4 linked regions of the Homo sapiens genome follow. The protein of the gene in region 2 interacts with the protein of the main gene of each other region in a pairwise test. Each region holds a gene or a part of one and is shown on either strand. Other genes may lie near its edges. The genes, in order: JUP, AXIN1, LHX4 and SMAD7.

Evidence for each region.
Region 1: the proteins of AXIN1 (region 2) and JUP interact in binary tests that used the Homo sapiens proteins (3 or more experiments, as listed by UniProt).
Region 3: the proteins of AXIN1 (region 2) and LHX4 interact in binary tests that used the Homo sapiens proteins (3 or more experiments, as listed by UniProt).
Region 4: the proteins of AXIN1 (region 2) and SMAD7 interact in binary tests that used the Homo sapiens proteins (3 or more experiments, as listed by UniProt).

The regions. Positions count from the first base shown.
Region 1 is NC_000017.11:41,755,710-41,762,732, forward strand, and holds part of JUP (junction plakoglobin), read right to left. Parts: intron 3,162-7,023; coding exon 3,006-3,161; intron 2,810-3,005; coding exon 2,690-2,809; intron 2,076-2,689; coding exon 1,925-2,075; intron 1,828-1,924; coding exon 1,706-1,827; intron 506-1,705; coding exon 466-505; intron 187-465; coding exon 35-186; 3' UTR 1-34. UniProt on the Homo sapiens protein: Common junctional plaque protein. The membrane-associated plaques are architectural elements in an important strategic position to influence the arrangement and function of both the cytoskeleton and the cells within the tissue.
Region 2 is NC_000016.10:293,705-300,727, forward strand, and holds part of AXIN1 (axin-1), read right to left. Parts: intron 5,501-7,023; coding exon of another isoform or gene 5,480-5,500; exon of another isoform or gene 5,307-5,479; intron 4,595-5,306; coding exon of another isoform or gene 4,571-4,594; exon of another isoform or gene 4,556-4,570; intron 4,548-4,555; coding exon 4,018-4,547; intron 3,523-4,017; coding exon 3,352-3,522; intron 15-3,351; coding exon 1-14. UniProt on the Homo sapiens protein: Component of the beta-catenin destruction complex required for regulating CTNNB1 levels through phosphorylation and ubiquitination, and modulating Wnt-signaling.
Region 3 is NC_000001.11:180,261,257-180,268,279, forward strand, and holds part of LHX4 (LIM/homeobox protein Lhx4), read left to right. Parts: intron 1-4,946; exon of another isoform or gene 4,947-4,974; coding exon of another isoform or gene 4,975-4,997; intron 4,998-5,135; coding exon 5,136-5,338; intron 5,339-7,023. UniProt on the Homo sapiens protein: May play a critical role in the development of respiratory control mechanisms and in the normal growth and maturation of the lung. Binds preferentially to methylated DNA.
Region 4 is NC_000018.10:48,940,954-48,947,976, reverse strand, and holds part of SMAD7 (mothers against decapentaplegic homolog 7), read left to right. Parts: intron 1-5,169; exon of another isoform or gene 5,170-5,318; coding exon of another isoform or gene 5,319-5,421; coding exon 5,422-5,496; intron 5,497-7,023. UniProt on the Homo sapiens protein: Antagonist of signaling by TGF-beta (transforming growth factor) type 1 receptor superfamily members; has been shown to inhibit TGF-beta (Transforming growth factor) and activin signaling by associating with their receptors thus preventing SMAD2 access.

The sequences.
Region 1 (7,023 bases), on a different chromosome or scaffold from region 2:
CTGCAAAGAGGGGGCCGTACTGGGGCCAGGCCGCCTAGGCCAGCATGTGGTCTGCAGTGGGGTACGGGGGCCTGAGGCCGTCGCTGTAGGTGTCGATGGGGTAGTCTCCATCCATGTCCATGTGCATCTCCAGCGGGTCAAGGGGCACATCGCTGGAGTACATGGGGCGGTAGGTGGCATCCATGTCTGGGGACAAAAAGTGGGGCTCGGTCCTAGGGTCTGCAAGCTACCCTGCAGGGAGCAGTCTGCACAGCCTTCAGCTGCCTCCTCTACCCATGCCCACCCCTGGTGGGCCTGACCCCTCCCCAGACCCCACACCAGGGCATCTAGACTGGGGTACATGTGGATGCCACACAGCAGTTGCCACTGGTCCTCTGGCCCCGGAGACATAATATTGTCCCCTCACACACACCCACACAGCCGCCCAGGATCTCCAGGGTCCTGAAGAGCCCGGCACACACTTACCATCTCCATAGGGCTCATTGATGGGAATCATGCTCTGGGCCTGAAAAAGGAGAGAGAAACATGGAGGGGAGGTTTGAAAATGCAGGCTCCGAGCTGGATCTCAGCTGGTGGGCAGGGAGAGATGCTTCTAAAAGAGGGGGCCAGGCTGGGTGCCATGGCTCACGCCTGTAATCCCAGCACTCTGGGAGACAGCAGGCGGATCACTTGAGGTCAGGAGTTCCAGACCAGCCTGGCCAACATGGTGAAACCCTGTCTCTACTAAAAATACAAAAAAAATTAGCTGGGCGTGGTGGTGCAGGCCTGTAATCCCAGCTACTCGGGAGGCTGAGGCAGGAGAATTGCTTGAATGGGGAGGCAGAGGATGCAGTGAGCCGAGATTACACCATTGCACTCCAGCCTGGGCGACAGGAGTGAGACTCTGTCTCGAAAAAAATAAAAAATAGGCTGGGCGCAGTGGCTCACGCCTGTAATCCCAGCACTTTGGGAGGCCAAGGCGGGCGGATCACAAGGTCAGGAGACAATCGAGATCATCCTGGCCAACATGGCGAAACCGCGTCTCTACTAAAAATAGAAAAATTAGCCGGGTGTGGTAGCGTGCACCTGTAGTCCCAGTTACTCAGAAGGCTGAGGCAGGAGAATTGCTTGAAACCGGGAGGCGGAGGTTGCAGTGAGCCAAGATCACACCACTGCACTCCAGCCTGGCGACAGAGCAAGACTCCATCTCAAAAAATATAAAAATAAATAAATAAATAAAAGAGGGGGCTGGAGAAAAGCAAAGAGGCCTTGGAGGAATAGAGGATGATGAAATGGGGTCACCCAGTGCCCTGATATACTCATGTCCTCGGTACTCCCCAGGGAGGAGGGTTCCCCACTCATGAAGCAGGGACTCCTGCCGGACTAGAGCAGCTCAGGGGAGGAGGCAGAGGACTCAAGAATGGGTACAGGGCACTGCCCCACCCTGGAAAAGACCGCCCATAGCCTATCCAGCACCTCCACGCAAATTACAAAAAGGCACCCCCACCTCAAACACTGTATACTCATTTGGGCAAAATAAAAATTGGCATTTTGTGGATATATGATTCAACCCACTACTTCCATCTGCTAGGAATTGTTATAAATGATCCAATTACAAAATAAAAATCTATGAAGTTGACAGTAGTAGGAGACCCCCAAAAGTGTTGCCCATGGGCAGTGCCCAACTTGCACAACCAACTACTGTGGTCCAACCTAGGATACTCACAGCCTCCCAGGCAGCCGGGTCATGCTTGAAGAGGGAGTTGGTGAGCTCCACGGACACGCGCTTCCGGTAGTCTGGGTTCTTGTCCTCGGAGATGCGGAACAGGACGGCAGCAGCGTAGGTGGCTGAGCAGAGAGGAAAGGAAAAGCCAGGTTAAACGTCGGCCAGCCTCCATCGTGGCTGGGGGAGTGGGACCCAGCCTCCTGCCCTCCCCCAGCTCACCAGTGCCCTCGTTGCGGGAGTGCAGCAACTCCATGAGTGGGGCCGAGGCCCCCTCTGCATCAATGGCGTCGGCCGCCTCCTTGTCCTGGGCCAGCTCACACAGCACCCCGGCAGCCACGCGCTGGATGTTCTCCACCGACGAGTACAGGAGCTGGGGAGAGGGGACGTGGGAAGCAGGGGAGAGGTGGAAAGGGGTGAGGCAGGCCGGACAACACACCCCACAGCACTGCCCACCTCCACCCTGTAGCAATTCCATAGTGGAAAATGGGCCGTCACTGGGGAGTAAGTGTTACTGCTTTAAACTGGGCTGAGCATTGTTCATGAGCTACCTTGAAATTACCTGTGACTCTGCCTCATCTAACCATTGGAATCTAGTGTTAATGAGCTCACTGATGTGAAAGATGTTAGACTCTTCTTGTCTGTTATGGTACTTGCACATATTCTCCCAGTTTGCTGATTTTTTAAAAATGCTTTTTTAGGTTCTTTCTGAAATACAGATGGTTTTCATGTTTATATGGTTGAATCTCAAGTTTTTTTGTTTTTTGTTTTTTTTTTCCATTTGTGATCTCTTTCCTTGCTTTGAAGCTTAGAAAGCCATGCCCATGCAGGGGGTTGCTAAGTAGTCAATCTGGAGTGGCAACTTTCCTCCAAACTCCTCCAAAGACCTCTTGATACCTGGTCCAGGCCTCCCAAATCTGGGACTCCTAACCTTGCCCTTTAAGCAGTGGTGGGGGGACCTCTCCTGCCCACCTGCCCCAGACTCACCTGCACAAACAGGGGAATGGTGTTGAGCCGGAAGATCTCCATGCGGTTCATGGGGTCCCGGGCGAGGATGTGCAGTGCTCCGGTGCAGCCCTCCACAATCTCCTCCATCCTCACACCATCCTGTGTGAGAGGAGGCAGGGGGCATGGGACAGGTGCCTTGGACATGGCCACAACTCCTCCCCATGACAGCCGAATGAACTTCACAGGTTCTTGGAATTGGCATCAGTTGCAACTGACCTCCCCATTCACACACACACCCACAGAGGACACCCTGACCCCCCAGGAAGGCTGTCAGAGGCACCACCAGCTCACATACCGTGTAGGGCTGCTGTGTGCCTGCAGCTACGTGGCGCTGGGCATCCTGGTGGGCCTTCACCAGCAGTTGGACGAGGCGGGGGATGACCGCTGCCTCCTGCAGCGGGGCATGGTTGGCTGGGCACAGGGCCAGATTCCTGATCAAGCCGATGGTTGCCTGGCAAAAAAAGGGGCAGTGATCAGGGGCACTTCTTGGACATCTGAAGGATCCCAGCTTCCCAGCTTCAAGTATCCCTTCCCTCCTTCACCTCTTCTGTCCCCGAGGCCAGACACAGACATACTGGAAAATATCCAGAGAAGGAGACCATCCCAGCCATGTCACTTAATCCACAGGATCTGGGAGTGCTCATGGCTAATTCTTTTTTTTTTTTTTTTTTGAGACAGAGTTTCGCTCTTGTCACCCAGGCTGGAGTGCAGTGGTGCAATCTCACCTCACTGCAACCTCCACCTCCTGGGTTCAAGCGATTCTCCTGCCTCAGCCTCCTGAGTAGCTGCGATTACAGGTGCCTGCCACCATGCCCAGCTAATTTTTTGTATTTTTAGTAGAGACGGGGTTTCGCCATGTTGGGCAGGCTGGCCTCGAACCCCTGACCTCAGGTGATCCGCCTGCTTCTGCCTTCTAAAGTGCTGGGATTACAGGTGTGGGCTACCACGTCCGGCTGCTCATGGCTAATTCTAATAGCCCTTGCTAAAATGACACCCCATTCCAGAACATCCTGCCAGCCCCATGCCTGGCCCCTCACCCTGTCCCCTCTTTCTTAACCACCCCCCACAGACACCATGACCTTGCTTGCTTTTCTGATAGTCCTCCAAGCCTGATTCTCAGGAATTCTGTGCTCTAGGTGCCCCCGAAGCCTCCTGCTTGGGTGGTGCTCACATTGTCATTAATCCCCAGCAGGGCAGCTCTGGAAAGAGGTGTCCTGAGATCTCCTCCCCAGGGTCTTTGACTCAGAGGAGCCACTCTGGCCTCCCAGAGCCTCTCAAGGTGTCATCTATTTCATCCTCAAAACAAGACGCCAGGAGGACAGGGATGAAAATCATGTGAGATGGGGACGTGAGCACAGGGCAAATGACTTGCCAAAGTCACTTGCCACTTAGCTGCTGGGTTAGGATGCAAAGTCCCACCTCAGGTTTGCAGCAGGGACCAAGCATCAAGGAGGGGTCACAATGACATTTTTTTTTCTAAACATGAATTTTCTTTTTTTAATTCAATGTATAGGCCGGGCGCAGTGGCTCACGCCTGTAATCCTAGCACTTTGGGAGGCCAAGGCAGGCAGATCACTTTAGGTCAGGAGTTCGAGACCAGCCTGGCCAACATGGTGAAACCACGTCTCTACTAAAAATACAGAAATTAGCCGGGAATTGCTTGAACCTGGGAGGCGGAGGTTGCAGTGAGCTGAGATCATGCCACTGCACTCCAGCCTGGGCAACAGAGCAAGAATCTGTCTCAAAAATAATAATAATAATAAAAAATAATAATTCAATGTGTAGAATCACTTAGAGTCATTCTTATCTGCACTGGGTTTTTTTTGTTTGTTTGTTTTTTTGTTTGTTTTTTTTGAGACGGAGTCTCGCTCTGTCGCCCAGGCTGGAGTGCAGTGGCGCGATCTCAGCTCACTGCAAGCTCCGCCTCCCGGGTTCACACCATTCTCCTGCCTCAGCCTCCTGAGTAGCTGGGACCACAGGCGCCCGCCACCACGCCTGGCTAATTTCTTTGTATTTTTTTAGTAGAGATGGGGTTTCACCGTGTTAGCCAGGATGGTCTCGATCTCCTGACCTCGTGATCCACACGCCTCGGCCTCCCAAAGTGCTAGGATTACAGGCGTGAGCCACCACGCCTGGCCATGTTTTTTGTTTTTGTTTTCCAAGACGGAGTCTCTCTCTGTCACCCAGGCTGGAGTGCAATGAGCGATCTCAGCTCACTGCAACCTCTGCCTTCCGGGTTCAAGTAATTCTTCTGCCTCAGCCTTCCGAGTAGCTGAGATTACAGGCACATGCCACCATGGCCAGCTAATTTTTGTATTTTTTGTGGAGGCGGGGACTTACTATGTTGGCCAGGCTGGTCTCGAACTCCTAACTTCAGGTAATCCTCCCGCCCCGTCCTCCCAAAGTGCTGGGATTACAGGCGTGAGCCACTGCGCCTGGCCTGTCTGTACTATTAAATTGTCTTAAATGTAGCTGGCGGATGCCCCTGCCAGCTGGCTCCTGTGCCCGTTGACAAGACCCTCATCGATGGTAGCTTCCTCACTCTCTGGCACCAGATGCCACCTTGCCTTTGGCTGCCTTCCTTGTCTCTACATATAGATATACACACACACAAACGCTTTCCCCCATAACTCTGTCCCTTGGGTCTGCCCACACCCTGACCCACTCTCACTTCCCCCACCTGACAGGGAAGTGACACACAGCTAGCTCTCTTCCACCCAGGTAGCCTCAAGAAGAAGACCCCACTCCTTCACACACCCAACTCCCTATGGGAGATGCTAAGCGTCCCCAGAATCCTCTGTGCCCTGTGTCTCTGTAGTGGCTCTCCTGATTTTCAGCAGGACACACGGCCATCTGGCTGGTGATCACACTTCCTAACCTCCTTGCACCTTGATGTGGCTGAATGACCAAGTTCTGGGGTGTGAGCAGGAGTGATGTGTGCCACTTTCTGGTGGCCGCTAGCCATCCCCAGTTCTCAGGGCTAGAACACATCCGTGGGGATGATACAGTCCACTCATTCGTGTGAGGACAACCCTCTCGTCTACACCCAGTGGCATAAGAAATGTGCTCCATGGAGCAGCACCTGCGAGCTTGTTAAAAATACAGAATTGGGCCAGGTGCAGTGGCTCACACCTGTAATCCTAGCACTTTGGAAGGCCAAAGTGGGTGGATCACCAGAAGTCAGGAGTTCAAGACCAGCCTAACCAACATAGAGAAATCCCGTCTCTACTAAAAAATGCAGGAGAATCGCTTGAACCCGGGAGGCGGAGGTTGCAGTAAGCCGAGATCGCACCATTGCACTCCAGCCTGGGCAATAAGAGCAAAACTCCGTCTCAAAAAAAAAAAAAAAAAGAAGAAATACAGAATTGTCCGGGCCTGGTGTCTCACACCTGTAATCCCCGTACTTTGGGAGGCTGAGGCTGGTGGATCACTTGAGTTCAGGAGTTCAAGATCAGTCTGAGCAACATGGCAAAATCCCATCTCTACTAAAAATACAAAAATTATCCAGACATGGTGGCGTGCACCTGTAATCCCAACTACTCAGGAGGCCAAGGCAGGAGAATCACTTGAACCCGGGAAGCAGAGGTTGCAGTGAGCCAAGAATGTACCACTGCACTCCAGCCTGGGCAATAGACATTGTCTCAAAACAACAAAAAAAAGACATACAGAATGGCAAGCCCTCTGCAGCAGGCCTGCAGAGAGACAGAGAGAGAGAGAGAGAGAGAGAGAGAGAGAGAGAGAGAGAGAGAGAGAGAGAGTGTGTGTGTGTGTGTGTGTGTGTGTGTGTTTTAGATTGTTTATTTGTTTGGGCTTTTTTTTTTTTCCAAATTTTTTGTAAGAGATGGGTGTCTCACTATGTTACCCACGATGGTCTCAAACTCCTGGCCTCAAGTGATCCTTCCGCTTCCGCCTCTGCCTGCACCTCCCAAAGTGCTGGAACTACAGATGTGAGCCACTGCACCCAGCCTCCTGTTTTTCTTTTCTTTTAAGACACGGGTTCTTGCTCTGTCACCCAGGCTGGAGTGCACTGATGCAATCATAGCTCACTGTAACCTCCAACTCCTGTGCTCAAGCGATCCTCCGACCTGAGCCTCCCCTCCCCAGTAGCTGGGACCACAGGCGTGCACCACCACACCTGGCTAATTTCTGTTGTTGTTATTGTTGTCGAGACAGGTCTTGCTATGTTGTCCAGGCTGGTCTCAAATTCCTGGCCTCAAGCAATCCTCCTACCTTTGCCTCCCAAAGTGTTGGGATTACAGGCATGAGCCACCGTGCCTGGCCCTGGAACCTGCAATTTAATGAAACCACCCAGG
Region 2 (7,023 bases):
TCGTCCCCGAAGACCTTGGGGAACAAGAGAACAAGTTGTGACTGTGGCCGACACCCTGGCCAGGTGGCCTGGTGGGGCTACACTCATCTCACAAGGGCAGCCTCCTTGAGGGATAGGATGGGATGGGGCACTGGGGCCTGGCCACCAAGCCACATGGACGTCCTCCACAGACCACACAATAAAAACATCCCGGCCAGGCATGGTGGCTCACACCTGTAATCCCAGCATTTCGGGAGGCCGAGGCGGGCAGATCACCAGAGGTCGGGAGTTCGAGATCAACCTAACATGGTGAAACCTCATCGCTACTAAATATACAAAATTAGCTGGGCGCCTGTCATCCCTGCTACTCTGGAGGCTGGGGCCCGAGAATGGCTGGAACTGGGGAAGTGGAGGTTACAGTGAGCCGGGATCACGCCACCGCACTCCAGCCTGGGTGACAGAGTGAGGCTCAGTCTCAGGAATAAAAAAGACAACAAAAAACCAACCCTCATTTGCCTGTAATCCCAATACTCTGGGAGGCCAAGGTGGGTGGATCGCCTGAGGTCAGGAGTTCAAGAACAGCCTGGCCAACATGGCAAAACCATGACTCTACTCAAAAAATACAAAAAATTACCCAAGTGTGGTGGTGGATACCAGTAATTCTAGTTACTCGGGAGGCTGAGGCAGGAGAATCGCTTGAACCTGGGAGGCAGAGGTTGCGGTGAGCTGAGATTGCACCACTGCACTCCAGCCTAGGCAAGAGTGAGACTCCATCTCAAAAAAAAAAAAAAAAAAAAAAAATGGCCAGGCGCGGTAATCCCAGCACGCTGGGAGGCCGAGGCGGGTGGATCATCTGAGGTCAGGAGTTCAAGACCAGCCTGGCCAACATGGTGAAACCCTGTTTCTACAAAAATACAAAAAGTTAACTGGGCATAATAGTGGGTGCCTGTAATCCCAGCTACTCAGGTGGGTTAGACAGGAGAACCACTTGAACCTGGGAGGTGGAGGTTGCAGTGCGTTGACACTGGCCTGTTGCACTCCAGCCTGAGCCACAGGAGCGAAACCCCATCTCAAAAAAAAAAAAAAAAAAAAAAAAAGGCCAGGCGCGGTGGCTCACGCCTGTAATCCCAGCACTTTGGGAGGCTGAGGAGGGCGGATCACGAGGTCAAGAGATCGAGACCGTCCTGGCTAACACGGTGAAACCCCACCTCTACTAAAAAAATACAAAAAATTAGCCGGGCGTGGTGGCGGGCGCCTGCAGTCCCAGCTGCTCTTGAGGCTGAGGCAGGAGAATGGCATGAACCCGGGAGGCGAGGCTTGCAGTGAGCTGAGATCAGGCCACTGCACTCCAGCCTGGGCAACAGAGCAAGACTCCGTCTCAAAAAAAAAAAAAAAAAATTCTTTCATGGAGACTTTTTTTTTTTCTTTTTTTGAGACAGAGTTTTGCTCTTGTTGCCCAGGCTGCAGTGCAATGGCTCGACCTCGGATCTCGGCTCACTGCAATCTCCGCCTCCCAGGTTCAAGCGACTCTCCTGCCTCAGCCACCGAGTAGCTGGGATTACTGGCACTCGCCACCACACACGGCTAATTTTTTGTATTTTTTTTAGTAGAGATGGAGTTTTTGTCATGTTGGCCAGTCTGGTCTCGAACTCCGGACCTCAAGCGATCCACCTGCCTCGGCCTCCCAAAGTGCTGGGATGAGGCTTCTTTTTTTACATTTTATTTTTAACAGCTTTACTGGGATACAAATTATATACTAATCCTAGAGGCCGGCGGATAGCTTTGAGTCCAGGAGGCTGAGACTGCAGTGAACGGTGTGATTACACCACTGCACTTCAGCCAGGGTGACAGAGGGAGACTCTGTCGCAAAAAATTAAAAAAAAAGTCTTAATGAATAAAAAGTATAAGTATGTCTCAAAGTGGAATGTATTAATACTTATCCTAAAATATGGGACATGCAATATTTAGTATATACAGCTATTTAAAAAAAGGATTCGGCCGGGCACGGTGGCTCACGCCTGTAATCCTAGCACTCCAGGAGGCCGAGGCAGGCGGATCACCAAAGGTTGGGAGTTCGAGATCAGCCTAACATGGCAACCACCCCCTGCCCCGGTCTCTACTAAAAATACAAAAATCAGCCGGGCGTGGTGGCTCACGCCTGTAATCCCAGCTACTCGGGAGGCTGAGGCAGGAGAATTGCTTGAACCCAGGAGGTGGAGGTTGCAGTTAGCCAAGATTGCACCACTGCACTCCAGCCCGGGCGACAGAGCTAGACTCCGTCTCAAAAAAAAAGACTCGAAGGCCAGGAATGGTGGCTCATGCCTGTAGTCCCAGCATTTTGGGAGGCCAAGGTGGGAGGATCACTTGAGCCCAAAAGCTTGAGACCCAGCTGGGCAACACACTGAGACCCCCTCTACAAAAAATGAGCCAGGCAAGGTGCTGTGCACCCCTGTTCCCTCGGGAGCCCCAGAAAAACGATGAGCCCGTCCCCACCTCAGTCAGCACCGATGGGGACCCCAAGGCCTTGCGGGACAGGCTTCCAACACAGGCAGGAGGGCCACGCCCCAGGCGCTCAGCTGCCTCACAAGTTCTCATCAAGTAATGTGGAGGGAGATGCGTCCTGGCCAGGGCCTGGGTGAGGGTGGGGGGCAGATCAGGACCTAAGTCTGAGGAAGCTGGGGCCATCCACCCACCAGGGCCAACACTTCCCAGCTGACCTGCCTCTGACCACGACAGGAAGGTGGGGGGTACCACCTCTGTGGGGCCCCTGGCCCTCCTGCTGGGTTCCGGGCACGAGTGCAGGCCCAGGGGGCGAGCAGGAGCAACACCAAGACCGGCCCGGCGGGCAGCGGCAGGGGCTGGACCTGTGGCGCCGGGGCCTTGCTCCACACCACACACGAGGCCTCTGCCCTTCTGGGAGGAGAGAAGTGCTCACGCTACACAAGAGCCTTCCCCAGCCCTCAGCAGGACGGCCAGGTGTGAGCACAGAAGGCTCCTCCGTGGGCACCTCGGGAGTGATGGTCAGTGGGGGCCTTCCCAGGTGACTTAGGTCATTCTCATGTGGGGGTCAGACTGGAAATGACCTCCCGAGAGCATCTGTGCTGCCTGCGGGGTGACAGCCACGTCAGCTTCCCTCCTGCTCGGGGCTTCAGGGACAGCCTCTCTCTGGGGACATGAGGTTTTCCTCCTGGAGACGTGGGGCCCAGGGAGCCTGCTGGAGGGTGCCCGGGAGGGTGCCACAGTGACAGGGGAAGTGTGAGGCGTCACAGGCGACACTCGCCACACACACTGAAGCTGCACACACTGAGACTGTGCGGAGGCCAGGGGTGGCAAAGCAGGCCCCACGAGGCTGGCTGCGTGCGGGGTGCTCACCCGTGGCCGGTCCTGCGGTGCCTGCTGATCTCCTTTTCCCCCTCAATGATCCACTGCATGATTTTCTGGTTCTTCTCCGCATCCTCCGAGGCACCTGGCACCTCGGTGCTGGCGCTCTTCCCCGACTCAGCCTTCTTGGCATTTCTTTTGCACGCCACGCCCACCTTCCCACTGCAAGGGCAAGAGCTGCGAGTCGCCCTGGCCTCCGGTGGCCGAGGCTGTGCCCCTTCCTCGTCTGCGAGGCCCCCTCCTGGCATCTGTAAGGCTCCCGTGGTGCAGCCGCCGCCCGCTGTCCCCTGCCCGCTTGTCCCCCACCCGCTGTCCCCCGCCAGCTTGTCCCCCACCCGCTGTCCCCTGCCCGCTGTCCTGGTGCTGTCTGGGGGTTGGTTTCCTCTCTAAACACACAGGCAGTCACTGCTCACCCCCTGAAGACTGAGGGCCAGAGCGGGAGCCAGGGTCGGGCTGTGTCCCCTAACCTTCATCTCCCACCTGAGGTCACGGCGTGGACTCCCCTGACCCAGGGCCCAGTCCACTCCCTCCAGCAGAGGGGCCTCCTGCCTGTTGCTGGCGGTCCTGGGTTTCCTGAGTTTTATGAGGAGGTTCTGGCCTTCTGCAGGGACACAGCCTCACCCCAAGCCCCCTCCTCACTGACAGGCGCACGCTCACCTGTGGGCGAGGCCATCACTGGCGTTGGGGGCAGCGCCAACACTCTCTGAGTAGCCTCGGGACCTTGCCCCATGGCTGTGTGGTTCCAGGCCCCAGGCGAAGCTGCTCTGGGCCCTGCGGGTGGCCTCGGCCTCCACCTGCTCCTTGGGCCGGGCTGTGCTGTGGTGGACGTGGTGGTGGACGTGTCGGTGGTGGTGCAGGCCGGCCGCGTCCAGCTTCGCCCCTGACTTGGGTACGTGCTTCCCGTGCCCCGAGGCGGCACCCCCCAGTGCCACTGGCATCTTGGCCACGTGCCCACTGTCCGGGGAGCGATGGCCAGGCCCAGGCGACTGGCGGCCAGGTGTCCTCAGCACACGCTGTACGTGCTCGTCCAGGATGCTCTCAGGGTTCTCCTCGTGTGCATCCCGGAGCCCGGCACAGCCCATGTCCACACAGCGGGGCGGGAAGTGGTGCCAAGCGGGGGCGGGAGGCAGCTTGTGACACGGCCCTGGGGGCCCTGACGATGGATCGCCGTCCTCACCTTCCTCCTCCTGTGTGGGGACAAGCAGCACCATCACCTCTCAGCACCAGCTGCACACTTGGGGAAAACAAAAAGCATCAGGCCTGACCCAGCAGCCCCAGCAGATGCCGTCCCAGCCCAGGGTGGCCGGGGGCCCCTCGCCACCGGTCCTGTCCCTGAGGATGGAGAGGCAGGACGGGGCATAGACAGAAGGAGCGGAGACAGCAAGGCCTCAAGGAATGCAGCGTATGTATCGGCTGTGGGCAGAGCTCTGCACAGATTTAGTTTAGTTTTATTCTTTTTTTGAGACAAGTTCTTGCTCTGTTGCCCAGGCTGGAGAACAGTGGTGTGATCTCAGCTCACTGCAGCCTCCGCCTCCTAGGCTCAAGCGATCCTCCCACCTCAGCCTCCAGAATAGCGGAGACCACAGCCGTGTGCCACCACGCCCAGCTAATTTTTTTGTACTTTGGGGACAGATGCGATTCTCACCATATTGGCCAGGCTGGTCTCGAATGCCTGAGCTCAAGCAATCTGCCTGCCTTGGCCTGTATATATATATATTTTTTGAGACAGAGTCTTGCTCTGTTACCCAGGCTGGAGTGCAATGGTGCCATCTCGGCTCCCTGCAACCTCTGCCTCCTGGGTTCAAGTGATTCTCCTCCTTCAGCCTCCCAAGTAGCTGAGACTACAGGTGTGCGCCACCACACCCAGCTAATTTTTGTATTTTTAGTAGAGACAGGATTTCACTATGTTGGCCAGGCTGGTCTCGAACTCCTGACCTCATGATCCACCCACCTCGGCCTCCCAAAGTGTTGGGATGACAGGCATGAGCCGCCGCGCCCGGCCTCCCATTATATTTTAAGGAGAACCTTGTACAGAACGGCTCTTGGGTTATGTACATGTTGTGATGCTGCCTGACGAGCTTCCACATGAAGCCGGTGGAGTTTCACTTGATTCTCCAAGTTAACAGGTGCTGAAGCTTATCTGTCAGAGCAAACATTTGATCACTTTAATTCCAAGTTGCATCTCATACTTATTTTCTCATCTTATTGGACTGACAAACTAAAACAGTATTGAGTAAATCTGGTGTCAATACAAAAGAAAGAGAGGGAACTAAGTTACCATGTATCTATGTATGTATTTATTTATTTAGAGTCAGAGTCGCTCTGTCAGCCAGGCTGGAGTGCAGTGGCACGATCTTGGCTCACTGCAACCTCCACCTCCCGGGCTCAAGCAATCCTCCTGCCTCAGCCTACCGAGTAGCTGGGATTATAGGAGTGTGCCACCATGCCTGCCTAATTTTTTTGTATTTTTAGTAGAGACGGGGTTTCACCATGTTGGCCAGGCTGGTCTCAAACTCCTAACCTCAGGTAATCCACCACCCTCGGCCTCCCAAAGTGCTGGGATTACAGGAGTGAGCCACCACAACCGGCCTATTTATTTTCATTTTTTTGAGACAGAGTCTCGCTCTGTCACCCAGGCTGGAGTGCAGTGGCACGATCTCGGCTCACTGCAACCTCCGTCTCCCGGGTTCACACCATTCTCCTGCCTCAGCCTGCCCAGTAGCTGGGACTACAGGTGCCCGCCACCACGCCCGGCTAATTTTTTATATTTTTAGTAGAGATGGAGTTTCACCGTGTTAGCCAGGATGGTCTCGATCTCCCGACCTCGTGATCTGCCCACCTCGGCCTCCCAAAGTGCTGGGATTACAAGTGTGAGCCACCGTGCCCGGCCTATTTTTATTTATTTAATTTTTTTTTGAGACGGAGTTTCACTCTTGTGTCCCAGGCTGTAGTGCAATCTCCGCCTCCCGGGTTCAAGTAATTCTCCTGCCTCAGCCTCCCGGGTAGCTGGGATTACAGGCACCCACCACCATGCCCAGCTAAATTTTTTGTATTTTTAGTAGAGACTGGGTTTCACCCTGTTTGCCAGGCTGGTCTCGAACTCCTGACCTCAGGTGATCCACCCACCTTGGCCTCCCAAAGTGCTAGGATTACAGGTGTGAGCCACCACACCTAATCGCAGTGGTGCCATCACAGCTCAAGGCAGCCTCAACCTCCAGGGGTCAAGCGATCCTCCTGCTTCAGCCTGCCAAGTAGCTGGGACTACAGGTGCATGCCACCATGTCCCATTAATTTTTTCTTTTTCTTTTTTTTTTGTAGAGATGGGGAATCTCACTATGTTGTCCAACCTGCTCTTAAATTCCTGGCCTCAAGTGATCCTTCTGTCTTGGCCTCTCAAAGTGTTGGGATTACAGATGTGAGCCACTGTGCCCCACCTACCTCTATATTTTAATATAAACAAACCTCCCAACGTTTAGCACCCAACTCTCACACCTGCAAAAGTATCCAAATGCAACTGGAACAGGCGTGCCCCAGAGCTGGTGTGGGCTTGGCTGCGGGCACCTGCACTGGGGCTGAGGGTGAAATATGGCACTAAAGAGGACAGACGGATGCTGGAGCAGAGCCGGGGGACAGGTGGGTGGTGGGCATCCCCTGGCGGATGCA
Region 3 (7,023 bases), on a different chromosome or scaffold from region 2:
CGCTGCCCTGAAGGGTGCGGGGAGTGGGCGGTAGAGAAGGGAGGCAGGCAGGGATCATAGCATGCCTGTACATGGATGGAAGGAGCCAGCAGAGGGGAAGCTAATGACAGCAGAGGCAAAGGGGATGGCTCACACCTGTAATTCCAGTGCTTTGGGGGCCAAGGTGGGAGGATCACTTGAGACCAGGAATTCAAGGCCAGCCTCGGCAACATAGTAGGACCCAATCACTACAAAACATGTCTTAAAAAATGAGCTGGGCATGGTGGCATGTGCCTGTGATCCTAGCTGCTCAGGAGGCCGAGGTGGGAAGACTGAGAGTTCGAGTGCAGTGAGCTATGATTGTGGCACTGCACTCCAGCCTGGGCAACCGAGTGAGATCCCCTCACCCCTAAAGAAAAGAGCTTAAAACTGCTTCTCTGCTCTGAGAAGCACAACTAACTGCCTTCACTGAAATATACCTCAGGCAGAGATTTGGGGTGAGATAGTAGGTCAGTTGATGTTCTGCAGGAAGGGGCAGCTTGTCCATATCAGCTCGCTCACGCCGCCAGTCCATTCTTAAGGAACTGCCAACCAGGACTGATGATGCATTTTAGCTTTGAGCTTTTGGGGGTTATCCTACCAACAAACAGTCCTTCGGGAAGAAAACAATCCCAGGAATTAACAGATCAGAATGTTCACACTGGTTAATCTTTTTCTAGCAATGAACATGAAGCTAGCAGAAGCTGGTGTGTTTCCAGATGGTTCCTCTAACCAAACTAATTTTTCACTGTTGACAAGTGAGGCAAGGGTTGCACTGGACCAAAGGCTGAGGCTTGGCCATCTAGCATTCCATGCAAAATGGTTTCCTATAAGCATTCCTTTTATTCTCTATTCTATCCTGGGTCTGCCTCAACCATGAGATAGGAGAGTCTCCGGTACTAGCTGCTGTAGCACTGCCCTTCATCCAGGACAGTTAAAGGAGTCTTGGACCTTTCTTTCTCTGGGATCGCTGCCCAGCACCTTCCTACAGAGATGACTTTGAAAGGAAAAAAAAAAAAAAAAAAAGGAAAAACAGCACACCATTCCAAGGAGCCTGGCATTCCTGAATCCTCCTTCCCTACAAGGTGCCTGTCACCTGTCTTTACTGCCTCCTTTTCCCTGTCATGCTCATCAGCTATGGCTTCTGTCCAAGTGCCTGAACAGAAGACTAGAACCTCCACTGCAGGCTGGTTTGAGGTCGTGATTTATGTCAGAATCTTGCACAGCACTGCTAATGTAAATTTCAGCTTTTTCCCTCTAGGATAAACACTTACCAAAGTATGCAACTTTTTTTGGTGGGAAGAGGGATTGTCCTGTGATTTCTACCCATTTTCTGAGGCCTGTGGAAATAAATCTTTAGGTACTTAAAGTTAGACCAAAAATAGAACAAAGTTAATACCAAACTTGAAAAAAAAAAAAAAAGAAAAGAAAAGAGCTGCCATTATGGAGAGCCAAGCCTCCCCTGACTACTCAGGCAAATGTTTTAAGAAGCAGTTCGTTCGTTCACTCATTCGTTTGCTCATTCGTTCATTCATTCATTCATTCATTGGGTCTTTGTGGCTTGCCTACTATGTGCTGGGCAGGGATAAGACAATTTCCAGTGGTGTTGGTTAGAGGATGAAAATAATATGAGCCATTAGCAAGTCTTCCTTGCATTTTCTCTGTGGTTTTGGATCAGCTCCAGCTGCTCTCCTGGGGGGACTGGTTGTCCCCAGAGGCCTGGCTAGCAGGACTGGGCAGCAGGCTTATCTTTCTGAAGGGTGAGGCCAGTGCCCTTGGTGCCCCTGCATGGGTGCCCGGTGATCGGTGTTAAGGGGTGCTGCTTGGAAAAGCCCTTGGGAGCCCTCTTCCTTGGCTGGAGTCCAGCCTTTCCCTCTTTACCCCAGCGTCCTTCATATTTGGTCCAGTTGGTTAGACTTCTGGTTCTCTGTGTAGCAGCCGGGTTCACAGTTTTACCTCGTGTGGGGCCAGGGAATTCTAGGCATGACCGTGTGTCTCATTATTGCCTGTCGCAGGGCAAGTCATGTGACCTGCCAGGCTTTGGCCTTCTCACCTGTGACTCTGGCTATTCTAAGATCTGGGAATGGGGACAGTGTCTCCATCACAGACACACCCCTGTAGGATGCCCTGTATTCTAGATACACTGGCTCTGACTGGAGATGGGGTGGAGGGTGATCTGCAGGGCTGGGCTGGGCCGGGGGAGCCTTGTGGGCCAAGGAGGTGCTGCATGCGGCTCCCTCGGCAAGGGTCCCGCTGGCTGTGCTCCAGGGGAAAAGGTAATGAGGAGCCACTTCCACTTCCCTTCAGTATAAATCCCACAATCAGGAAAATTGCTTCAATTGCTAAAAAACGCTGGTGGGGAAGTCCACTTATTTTTCATTTTTCTTGTGCACTTGCCACCCTCATGCATGAATCACTGTCGGTATGTAGATTAAATTTATACCCCCGTTATCTTTCATGTCTCTGGTGTGCTGGTGTCAGCTGGGCCTCCGGTGACTGAAAGCCCCCTGCCTGCTTTTTAGTGGGAGAGAGTGTGGCCCCTGTGGAGGAGGCTGCTGAAGGGTCTTCCCTCTGTTCCGGGGTCTCCTCTCAGCCCTCCTCTCCTTGGATCTCTGGTTAGGACACATTCTCCAGATTTGCGTGGTTTGTTGGGAGGGTTCGCAACAAGCATGATGAAAGCCTTGTTTCATTTTAATTAATTAATTTAGAGACAGGGTCTCGCTCTGTTGCCCAGGCTGGAGTGCAGTGGCGTGATCTTGGCTCACTGTAGCCTCAACCTCCCTGGGCTCAGGTGATCCTCCCATCTCAGCCTCCCAGGTAGCTGGGACTACAGGTGCACACCACTACACCCGGCTAATTTTTTGCATTTTTTGTAGAGGCAGGGATTCACCATATTGCCCAGGCTGGGCTCAAGTGATCCTCCTGCCTCAGCCTCCCAAAGTGCTGGGATTACAGGCGTGAGCCACCACACCTGGTGCCTTGTTTCATTTCAGTACCTGCTTTGCAAATTGGCTGGGATTGGATATTAAATATACAGGCCTTTTGAAAACACTCTCTAGTAACACATGTGTAGGCTTCCTTTCTCTGTTATACACACACACATAACACACACACACACACACACACACACACACACACAGTAGAGGTGGGTGCCTGCCAGCCTTCCTCTTTGATCCAGGTGATGTGGTTACACAGCAGTTGTGGAGGACCTGGTTCTCACCTGTGTTCTGGGAGGTCTAGAACCATCCAGAGCCGACTGTGTGCTTTGTTCTACATCCTCAGGTTCGGCCATCTCCGTGCACATCCTCTACAAGTATGGTGCTTTATCTGCTGATTTATTTATTCAACAAATATTAACTCTACTTTCCTGGGTCCTGAATCCCTTTAAGAATCTGATGAAAACCCAGGTCCCCTCCTGAGGCACAATTTTGAACAACTTAGCAGGTGGTTTACAGGCCTATGCTGACCCTCACGCAGAGAACTCCTGCTCTAAATGGGCCCCATCTCTCTGAAAACCAAGAGGCATTCCAGGAATTCAGAAGCCTGGGGTCCTCCCAAGCCACCACCTCTCAGCCCCTCACACCCCAACACCCTTCTTATACCCATCTCAGAAGAGTGTTCCCTGAAGTACACTCTGGGTCTTTCAGGATTACCCATGCAGACTTAGAGAACCCCCACTTTTCTCTGGGATGCTGTGTCCCTGGTGGGGGGCGTCTGAGGCTGCTGCTGGCCATGCCTATTCCGGGCCCCCATAACCCCCTCAGCAGGTATCATTACTGCATAACAGACCTATCATTCTGCATTAATCTGGTATTCATCATGATAGCCATGACCATAATTAATTTATTTGGTATTAATGTGGATGAAATATGTACTGTCCTTTCAGGGGAAATCAGGCTGCCTATAAGCATTAGTTAAAAGGACCATTAAAATCAAACCTTCCCCAGATCCATTAGGCGAAGTCTTTCATCCTGAAGAAGATAAAGTTCTGCTGTGTGAAATGTCATGAATAATTAGGTTGATTGCTGTTTTAAACTCTGCCCTTGCTTTCCCAATGCCTCCCGCCTCCCTCCTGAAGCGGGGAAGGCTCACCTGCAGCCACGCACCCTCCTTCACTGTCCCTGTCGGCCCCCAAATTTCCCTCGTCTCCTATGACCATCGGTGTGCCTCTGTTGATCTCTATGACCAGAATGGGGAAAGGGAGTGGAAACAACCCCACTGGACGATACTTTTAAGTGTCAATTTCTCCTTCCTTCCCGGCCTTGGCAGGGGGTGGCTTGCTTGGTAGAAGCTGCCTTGGTGGCAGCAGGTAGCTTCCTTTTGCCTCGGTGTTGTTCTGGAAAGGTGCTGACCAAGGAGAGGTCTGAAGCAGCATTTTCCAAACTGTAATCTGCAGACTCCTTGTCCCGAATGCTGTAGGGGCTGAAAAGTGCAGCTTCCTGGGCCCTTCCCAAACCACCATGCCCCAGGCTGTGTGCGTGCATAGGAAGGGGATGGAGGTAGGCTTGGAGGGCTTTGTGTGTGCAGAATGGAGGTGAGGGGAGAAATGGAGGCAAAGGAGAGAGAACAGCTGTCAGGACAGCCTTGCTCTGCTGACAAAGTGCATTTTCTCTGCAGCGTGCTGTCCCCTGGCCAGGCAGGGCCTCCTCCCTGGGAGTGTGTGAAAAGGTGTTGCTGGGTGCTTTCTACACACAGCCTGTGGCACACACAGTTCCCTGTGAGGATGTCCTCTGGGATCAACCATAAGGGTGAGGAAGCTGGGAGGTGGAGGGGGAGACAGCCTGCTTTGAGGGACTTAGAAAGTCCACCTGCTCCCCCTGTGAATTGATGGGTGTTAATCGGGCAGCTGGAATCCGGGGGCATCAGCTTTGGAAAAGGTACCTGAGGGAGACTCTAGTTCTCATCAGTCCCTTCTTTGGTGGTTGAAGAGTCCCAGGCACAAAGCAATGAAGCTAGATGGAGGCAGAGAGGACCAGACGGTAAGCTCTGGGTGACTGGGGGGTGAGGCTCATGGAGTCCCGGAGTGGTGGGGTAGGAGGGAGGCTGCTCCAGGAAGTTGGGGGAAGCCAGATCCCTTGCTCCCTGTGTGCCCTAATCCTTTCCTGCTGCCCTGACAGGCGCTTCGGCACAAAATGCACGGCCTGCCAGCAGGGTATCCCCCCAACCCAGGTGGTCCGCAAGGCCCAGGACTTTGTCTACCACCTGCACTGCTTTGCTTGCATCATCTGCAACCGGCAGCTGGCCACGGGGGACGAATTCTACCTCATGGAGGACGGGCGGCTGGTGTGCAAGGAAGACTACGAGACAGCCAAGCAGAACGGTAAGCAGCATGGCCCCGCATGGTCCCCTCTCCAGGCCTTTGTTTGGGCCACGCCCTCTGCCTGAGGTGCCCTTCTCATGGCGTCCCACCTGCCCATCCCTCAGAGCCCTACTCATGCACCGCCACCTCTGAGAAGCGTCCCAGATCTCCACACTGAGAGTAAATGCTGAACACCTCCCCGGCCGTTAGCACTCGCCGGCTTCATGGAAGTGTTCATCCAGCCATGGTTCCTGAGAGCCTGCCTGTCTCCATGGTAGGCTCAGAAGCAGCCAAGAACCTGGTTGTTACCATGGTGGTGGCCTCCTTCCCTGGGTGGAGGCTGGGGTGCTGAGGGGTGGCTGGGAGCTTGGTCTGTATTGGACACGTGGGGCTGCCGCTTAGTTTTGCACATCAGGGTGCACATGGACCTCTCAGCAGCCCCTGCCTCAAAGGCCGTCGGTGAGAGCCCAGCACTGGCCTCTGCACACTTCATACATCTGTCTGTTAATTGTGTTCTGTTCGCCTCGCAGACTGTGGGCTCCTCTAGGGCAGGGCCTCCTGGAGTTTCTGCAAGTGCCCAGTGAGTGCTAAAAGAAGAGGCAGGACACATGCCAGATTCAGGGAGGCTCCGTCTCAGCAATATAGCTCCCTCCACCCACTTCAATATAGCTGCCCCCACCCCCTTCACCACAACCACTGCAGGGCCACTGCCCACGGTGGCAGCAGGAGCTCTGCATGGTGGAGGCCGAAGTCAGGTCCCGCATTTAGCAGCCACGCCTGGAAAGGCCTAGCTTGGCCTGGCGGCAGCGGCTCTCGCCCTACATGCCATGCGCTTGGGCAGCCCGGGGACTTTCCAGCGTAGAGCCCAGAACAACACATTCCCCATGCTCCCCTCGCAAAGCCAAGGTGGACACTTTTATTCCTGCAGCCCTACCTCTGGCTTCTCACTCCCAGATGCACCCACATGGTCGTGGGGTCAGGCCCTGGCTCTGAATTTGGGATTTGGCCAAACCCAACATGATAACCTCAGAGGTGTGAACGCACAAAACATCAAGTTCCTTGGCCTTTGACTAGAATTTTGATCAACTCAGGGTGTTACTGTGCAAAAACGGCTCTTGTTGACAGCTCTGGGCTTGATGAGAAAAAAAATTAACAACAATTTTATGTATCTCCTTCTAGATCTTTTCTGGGCCCACACACATATTATACAGATCTCATCAATAATGGAGAAACTGGTTTTTTGTTCATTGAACACAGTATAAAATAAGGGGATTGTGGTGGTGAGGAAGCAGAGGGGATTCATAAGGGCCCTTTAGGTGAGCCAGCTGGAGCTGGGTTTGGCTTTGGTCCATGGCAGGAGTGGGCAGGGCTTCCTGTCTCTTTGAGGACCTTCCCTCCCACCACCCCCACAGCTCTGGCCTTTCAGGGTGGACAGAGGCCTTTGACCTCCTTCCTCCAGAGACCTGGGGCCTCTGCAAACCCATCCCAAGGCTCTTTGCCTGCAATGTACTAATCTGCTCTGGTTTCTTAAAACTCACTCCATGCTATTGCCTTGAAGTCAATTGTGATGTCATGGGAGATTAGGGCAACTTGTCAGGGATGAACCATCACAGCAGATGGACTCAGAGATACCAAGACACCTTTGGAAGTCTAGTGCCGTTCATCAGAGATACTAAGATGGCACGACCTCCCCGGCCTGCAGCTGG
Region 4 (7,023 bases), on a different chromosome or scaffold from region 2:
AAGGTGCAAAGAAGACTTTGGTCTGGAGTAGACACTAGAACTTTTCAGAAGTATAGGCAACAGCCAGTAAAAGGGGGGGGGGGGTAGGTTCCTCCTGCTCCAGTCACCTGCAAGTCAGTCCTCTCCCGGGGTTTTCTCAGTATTCGCCATAGGGACTATCAAAGTTTGAAGCATAGCTCTGCCTGTCTGCTGCTTTGTCACTGGCTGGCATGAAGCCATGGCAGAAGCCCATTTGAGACTGGCACCAGCCCTGTTGTGGTTGTCTGCATTCAACTTCTGGCCGGCAGCAGCACAGGGGTCCATCCTCTGGACATCACAGTGCTGGGGACAGGGTCAGCAAAATGAACTTGGGGGTGACAACAAGGACAAACCCAAATTCCTGGAGCTCCCTCTTACAGTAGGAGATAGATCTGTTTGCTAAAAGTACAGGTTGTATGTAACCTTGGTTTTTGTGCCTGTATACTGGTGCCTGAAAAAAACATTAATACTTGGGACATTTTTATTTTGCCAAGGTTCTGGGAGAAGGAAAAGTGAAGGGTTGGGCACCATTTAGCTCCTGGAATTCTGCAAGTCCTTCCGCCTCCTGCGTTTTGGCTGTTGGGCCTTTCCCCCCACTAATTAAAAGTTTTGCTGGGGCGTTGTCATAAATTAAATACTTTAATGAACGTGTAACCGAAGCCCATACTCTGCAGCCAGTCCTCCTGGGACTCTACCAGCTCCCTCAAGTTGGGAAGGCGTTCCTGCTTGCCTGGTGCCGGTCTAATAAGTGGCCCGCAAAGCATGTGATATTTTGCTTTCGATTTACAAAACACCAGATAAATGGTTATTAATAAGGAGATACCCAGCTCTCTGTATTTGTAACAAACGTTAACTGGAATTACCAAGCTCTGTTTTCCTAAAGACTGTAACTTGACTGGGTTTTGGCTTAAAGAATCAAGAATTCTTTTATGAAGTTCATTTTCCAAGGGGCCACCTCTGACCTGTTTTTTTTGTCCTTCCATATTCTTCAAATTTGGAGGTTTTCCTTAAAAGAGAGAGAACAGTGACCTTAGCCCCAGGGATAAAGACCAGCAGGGGTAAATGTTCCCAGAAACCTCCAAAAACCATAGAAAAGAAAGGCCATGTTCCCTTGGGTTTCCTGCAGAGACACTGGGATAAATCTGTTCTCAGGATTTAAGCAGTCATTCTGCCAGGCCAGGGCCTCATTTTCGGTGAGTGGAGTGATATATTTATTCATTAGCAAGTGTTGACATTAGGTAGCAAAATGTGTGTAAACAGAGAAGCCACAAAGACAGGAATGTGCCATTTCCAAGGGGGAGAAAAGTTCTCCAGATCAGCCAATAGGAAGTGATTAACCTGCCAATCGGAAACTAAGACAGCTGGTTACTCACCCAAAACGTTTTGTTGAAAATAGAACAAAAAAAGAAATGAGAAAAGGCGCTGCTGTGTAAGAATTTAGCATCAGTAATAGACAAAGCCCCCACGAAGGGAATTGTCCTGCCACATTGGAGGACAGCCAGGTCTGGAGCTGGAGCACACCCCCCCCGCCCCCCTCACAGGTCTGGGGCTGGTTTTGCCAGCTGCTGTGGCCGGGGGCATTGAGGTCAGACCACAGATGGGCGCTGACCCAGGTCTTCATCCCCATTTTGCGTATGGGAGAATGTTTGGCCCGGGAATCTACATGGACCATTTACATTCTTCAGTTTCTATGTCCCTTAGGTTGAATTTTTGGTCTTGGGTTACTAGATGAAACAGGCACAAAGTTTTACAGTGGACAACTGTTAAAATCTTAACCAGTTGCACAACTAAAGGAATACATCCTGTGAAGTCTCCATCTTAGGAAAAGGTGGTGGGAATGGGGCTGGGGCCTGGTACCCTGCAGCCTTTGGAGACACAGAGGGCTCAAAGCTAGGAACTCCATTTTGCTATAATTTAAGCCACTCCACTCAGCATCTGGGAGGCCTGGACTTTAGACACCTAGGTACTGTGTGGTCCAACCAGGAGAGCCTTCTTTGAAAGAGTGTTCACATGACTGAACCTAGGGGAGGCCAGTTGTGACTTGTGGCTGTCAGAAGTCAGAAAGACACCCCCACCTCCACATCCCACAAGAAGTCAGAATTTGCTGTTTAAAGCTGGATCTCGGGGATAGCTGTGTGGGCTCTGCTTCCCGTGTTTCATTGTATCTGATGGTCTGAAAGGTTTGAGGAATGGCTGGCCTTGGGGGGTTGCTGGGTGAGCTCTTGAGGGACCCAGGTGGCCAGTATCCATGGGCAGATCCAGCCTGCAAATCCAGATCGGAAGTCTGGTGTCTTGACCTGAGATCTGGCACTGCGTTTCTCTCTTAACCGAGGTCCCTCTTAACTTTTCTAGGCCTCTTTTAAAATCAGCATGATGAAAGAGATTAGGTCATTCATTCATTTATTCATTCATTGGTTCAGTCATTCATTTTACAGGCATGATGATGTGCCTACCTAGAAATTTGAGGATTCCGATGCAGTGCTGTGTTCTTTTTTTTTCCGAGACAGTCTCATTCTGTGCCCAGGCTGGAGTGCAGTGGCCCGATCTCGGCTCACTGCAAGCTCCACCTCCTGGGTTCACACCATTGTCCTGCCTCAGCCTCCCGAGCAGCTGGGACTACAGGTGCCCGTCACCATGCCCAGCTAATTTTTTGTATTTTTAGTAGAGACGGGGTTTCACCGAGTTAGCCAGGATGGTCTCGATCTCCTGACCTCGTGTGATCTGCCCACCTCTGCTTCCCAAAGTGCTGGGATTACAGGCGTGAGCCACTGCACCTGGCAGTGCTGTGTTCTTTTATAACCAGGGTTCATTTGAGTTCTGGGTTGGTTGAACTACCTGGGGCAGAGCTGGGACCCTTGGGGTACAGTGGTGAGTAGGGGCTCCTCTGTCTTTAACAGTACTTAGGAAGCTCAGAACGCAGTTGCTGAGACTATCGTGGGACTCCCAGCTCCTTTACCTTGTACTCATTCTCAATAGTTCGCTCCTTGGCTGCTCCCCAGGGTTGGGTTTTCAAAGACTCTGTTGGAGCTGCTCGGAGAAAGGAATGAGTCTTTTTCTCTCGCAGAACCTAGTGCTTACCAAGTGCTTGATAACACTTAGTGTTGCGTGAGTCAGGAGTGGCCTAGAGCTTCTGTCTGCCAGCCAGCCTGGGCTCTGGGGAACAGGCGACACAGGCCTAAGGTGAGACCCTGACTTCAGAGATCTGTCTATGCGGAGCTTTTCTGTGGGTGAGAGATGGAGGTATGGCTCCTTTAACCTTGAGGCCAGTCTGGATGGCCTGGCCACCTCCAGGAAAGAGGGTAGGGACTCCATAGCCTGCCTGGGGAGTGAGAGCCATGGGATAGGGCTGGACTCTTGGGAATAGCCCAGCTCACTGGGTGGCCCTTTGAGCTAGTCAGTGACGCCTCAGTTTACCTGGCTGCCTATGGAACAGGTATACTTTGCTTCTTCACAGGGGTGGTAGGGAGGCTTAATTAACGTTTGTAAATCCCTCTTGAGATCAAAGCCACTGCAGAAGGGCAGAGCACCATTTCACAAAAATGCTTGTGGTTGCCTGTGTGGAGCTGGCTTACCTTTGATCTGAGATGGGCTGACACCCTGAATGTGGTCTCAGCTCTGCTCTGAGATGCCCGGCTTTTCCTTTGAAACACACCTTGCCCCTGGGATTCTGCCAGCCAAAGGTGGCGGGGAGTGGCTGTGGATAAGTCATTATGTTTAATGTGGGGGTGTCTTCCATCTGGGAGGAGTGGGTGGAGGAGAGGGTTGAGAAGCCTATCTCTAGAAAATGATGAAGGCCATCAAAATGGTTTAGAAAGTGCAGGGTATACACCATTTAACAAGTAACTCCATTTCCTGCCTGCCTCTATTGTTTTCTGTTTGATTAAGTGTATCCTGTAAAACTGTATATTCCTGTTAGGAATTAGACTTTACCCTGATAAAATGAGATTACACACACAGTCTTCTTTCCCCCTACCCACCGCAGCCACCTCACCCCCACGCCTGCCTCCACTTCTGCCCCTCGCCCGCTTAGGAGAGTTCTTGAAAAGTTGTCCTTCCAGCCTTGAGAATGTGGGAGAGGGAGTGACCCTGAGTTAGAGAGAGAAACTTAGCATTAAGAGGGCAGACAGCAGAAACCCAGAGATGGTTTGGGGCTATGTGTAGGCCACTAAAGGATTCCCATGGGCTACTTGCCCGTCTGCTCTTTTTTTTTGGCTTTCCTATTTGCCAGCATGGCCAAGTGGTTCCAACTGGAAACCCACAGGGACATTGTCCTGGTGGCCTGGGGTAGGAGGCCTGGTGTCTGCACGATCCAACCTGTTGTGTTTGCTGCGGACCTGGGCAGCACCTTTCCTTAGCCGGGCTCTCCGCTAGGACTTCAGGGAGTTTGGCGCTGCCAGTGGTGCATGACAAGCTTACAGGGTCTTGTGTATTTGTGTTTCATGGGACTAATGAGTTGTGGTTCATGGACATTAGGTTTTGCTTTAATTGCTTGGAGGGCGGTTGTGGAGACTGTTTCTCAGCTGGAATTGTCATTATCCTCATTAACGGTGAGGTCACTGTGCAGAGTACCTGAGGGTGACAGAAGTTGAAGAGAAGTCTAGTTAAGGGCAGATGCAATCTAAAGGTAAAAATCAGTGAGGAAACTCCGAGTGTTGGGTGCCAAATGTTTTATAGGAACTGAGGGCAGAGAGCCTTAGCAGGTCTGGGGTTGCCTGGGAAGGTTTCCAGAGATGAGGGGTTTGGACTAGCCTGGGAGAGGTAGAACATTTCCCCTCCGGCTCGGAGCCTTGCTGAGAATGTTCTCTGTCTTGATCTGGTGGTGGTTACACAGATGTATACATGAGTAACATTCATTGCGTCTACTTGGGATTTTGTATACTTTGCTCTACTTAAGTTAGTCCTCAATTAAAAAAGGGGAAAGAAGTCCCGGCAGCCCAACATCAATCTTGAGAATGTTTTCAAGAACTGGGAAACCTGTCTTTAAAAGGATGAAGGCAGAGAGGACATGGGCTCCAAGGAGAGAGCCTTCTGCCCTTGATGAGGGATGACAGAGCAACCAGGGTTGAGAAAGTCCAACCCAAACCTCCTTTGACCTTGGGAACCACCTGGTATCCGTAATGGGGGACTGGTAATGCAAGAGAAATTCCAGCCAGTCTCATTGAGCCTGACTCGAGTAATGATTAACTGGCTGCCCGGAGCCCAGACGGGTGACAAGGTGCTGTGGTCTGTCTTACGATGGGCAGTGAAGCCTGAGCAGACCATTAATAATCAGCATCAAGGCCGCGAGTCAGCCTTTTGGAATGTGTGGTTTGTCTTTCATGCTGTTTAGAGCGTGCTTAAAGATGGATCTTGGTGTTTTTATTTGTGTATTTATTTCTTTCTCTCCCCTTTTCAAATCCACAGCAGACTGTCCAGATGCTGTGCCTTCCTCCGCTGAAACAGGGGGAACGAATTATCTGGCCCCTGGGGGGCTTTCAGGTAAGATGCTTTCTCTTATTTTCCTGGCAATTCCAACCTTTTTTGAAATTGCTAAAGACTGGAGGAATGGGGGTGGCCTTCTGCCACCCCAGCTGGTCTGGACTTCATTCTCATTTTTATATGCCTTAAGTTGGATGCATCGGTGGTGACATTGTGGTGCCCTTCAGCTCCTCATCCTGCAGTCCTTTACGCTCTGGACACTGGATCCGTTCCGTGGACGGGGAGACAAGAGCGAGCTGGGGATTGCTTTGGTGTGTGAAGTGTTGCCCGGTTATTTTTAAGCAGCTCCTGGCTTGGGGGGCTTCAGCTTGGTGACTTTGGTGTCATTAACTCATGCATTTGAGCTCTTTTTTTGCTTTTGCTCTTTGCGCATGGGGGATGTAAAGGGAATGGACCCACCTTTAGGGAACTTGTTGAAGACAGATCCCAAGCATACGATGGGATTTCAGAGTAGATCTGAGGCTTCCCTCCCAAGTTCTGATTCCCAGCCCAGCCTGCTGCAGGATTTTGCAGCACATGTCTGGGGCTGGGAGCACCAGGGTGGGAGCACTGCCAACAGTAGGAGCTGTAATTGTTCCCTAGCGGGGCAGGTTTTCCTCAGGGCTCACAGGTATGCGTGAAGGCCTGGAATGCCAGTGCTGGGGGGTCACGGGGCTGGCTGACAGGCACGGGGTAGCCAGAGCATTGTTGTTCCTGAGGATGCGAAAAGAGGGCAGTACTTAGAGAAACTCACTGGTTATGTACATGGGACGCATTTCATGTTGTTCTGAAGAAATCCTATTTCTACCTGTTTTTCCATCCCCACCATGTCATCACTAGATTTTCTAAGAACTGGCTGAAGCAAGAGGGAAAACGACCTTAAAAACAGAAATTCCAGCAGAGTTTTGGGCATTTGGCATTTCCTTGCCTGTAGGATCACGTGGTAGCAGCTCGAATAGAAGCTGTGCCCTGTTGTGGTGTATCCTCTTGTGTGAGGGGCACCCTTTTTTGTGGGGTACCTGCTCTGACTACTTGGTGGTGTGTCTTCCATGGCTGGCTCAGGCAAAGTTCATTCCCGGACGGCTCCCTCCCCGGCTCTCCTCTTCAGGAACTGAGCTTGCTGAGAACGTCTTTAGGGAGACCCTTGTTTGTTTTCATTTCAATGCAATATATACTCTGTTATCTGAGACTGAGGGTATTGTTTACTCAAAGCTTCTAATGAGAATTGAGCAGGAAAAAGAGGGACCTAGAGAAGGGAGGGGGCTTCAGGCAGTACGGTGGGAGTGGACAGAGGAGTTGAGGAGGGAGAAAAGGCAGCAGTGTGTGAACTGCATCTTTTCTGCTTTCTAAGGCTGAGAGAGTTCTTGAAAGAAAGAAGGCCAATGAGAGGAAAGGGTCTCAGCAGAATAACACGCTCAGGATGTTGTTAGATGGTTTTATTTTTTAAACCCTGAATGTGCAGGGAGGAGCCCCGGCCCCTCCAAACCACATGAAATAAGCAAGGGAAGTGGCAGCTTTTGAAAGGGTCCTTTCGGAAGGTTTGTCTTC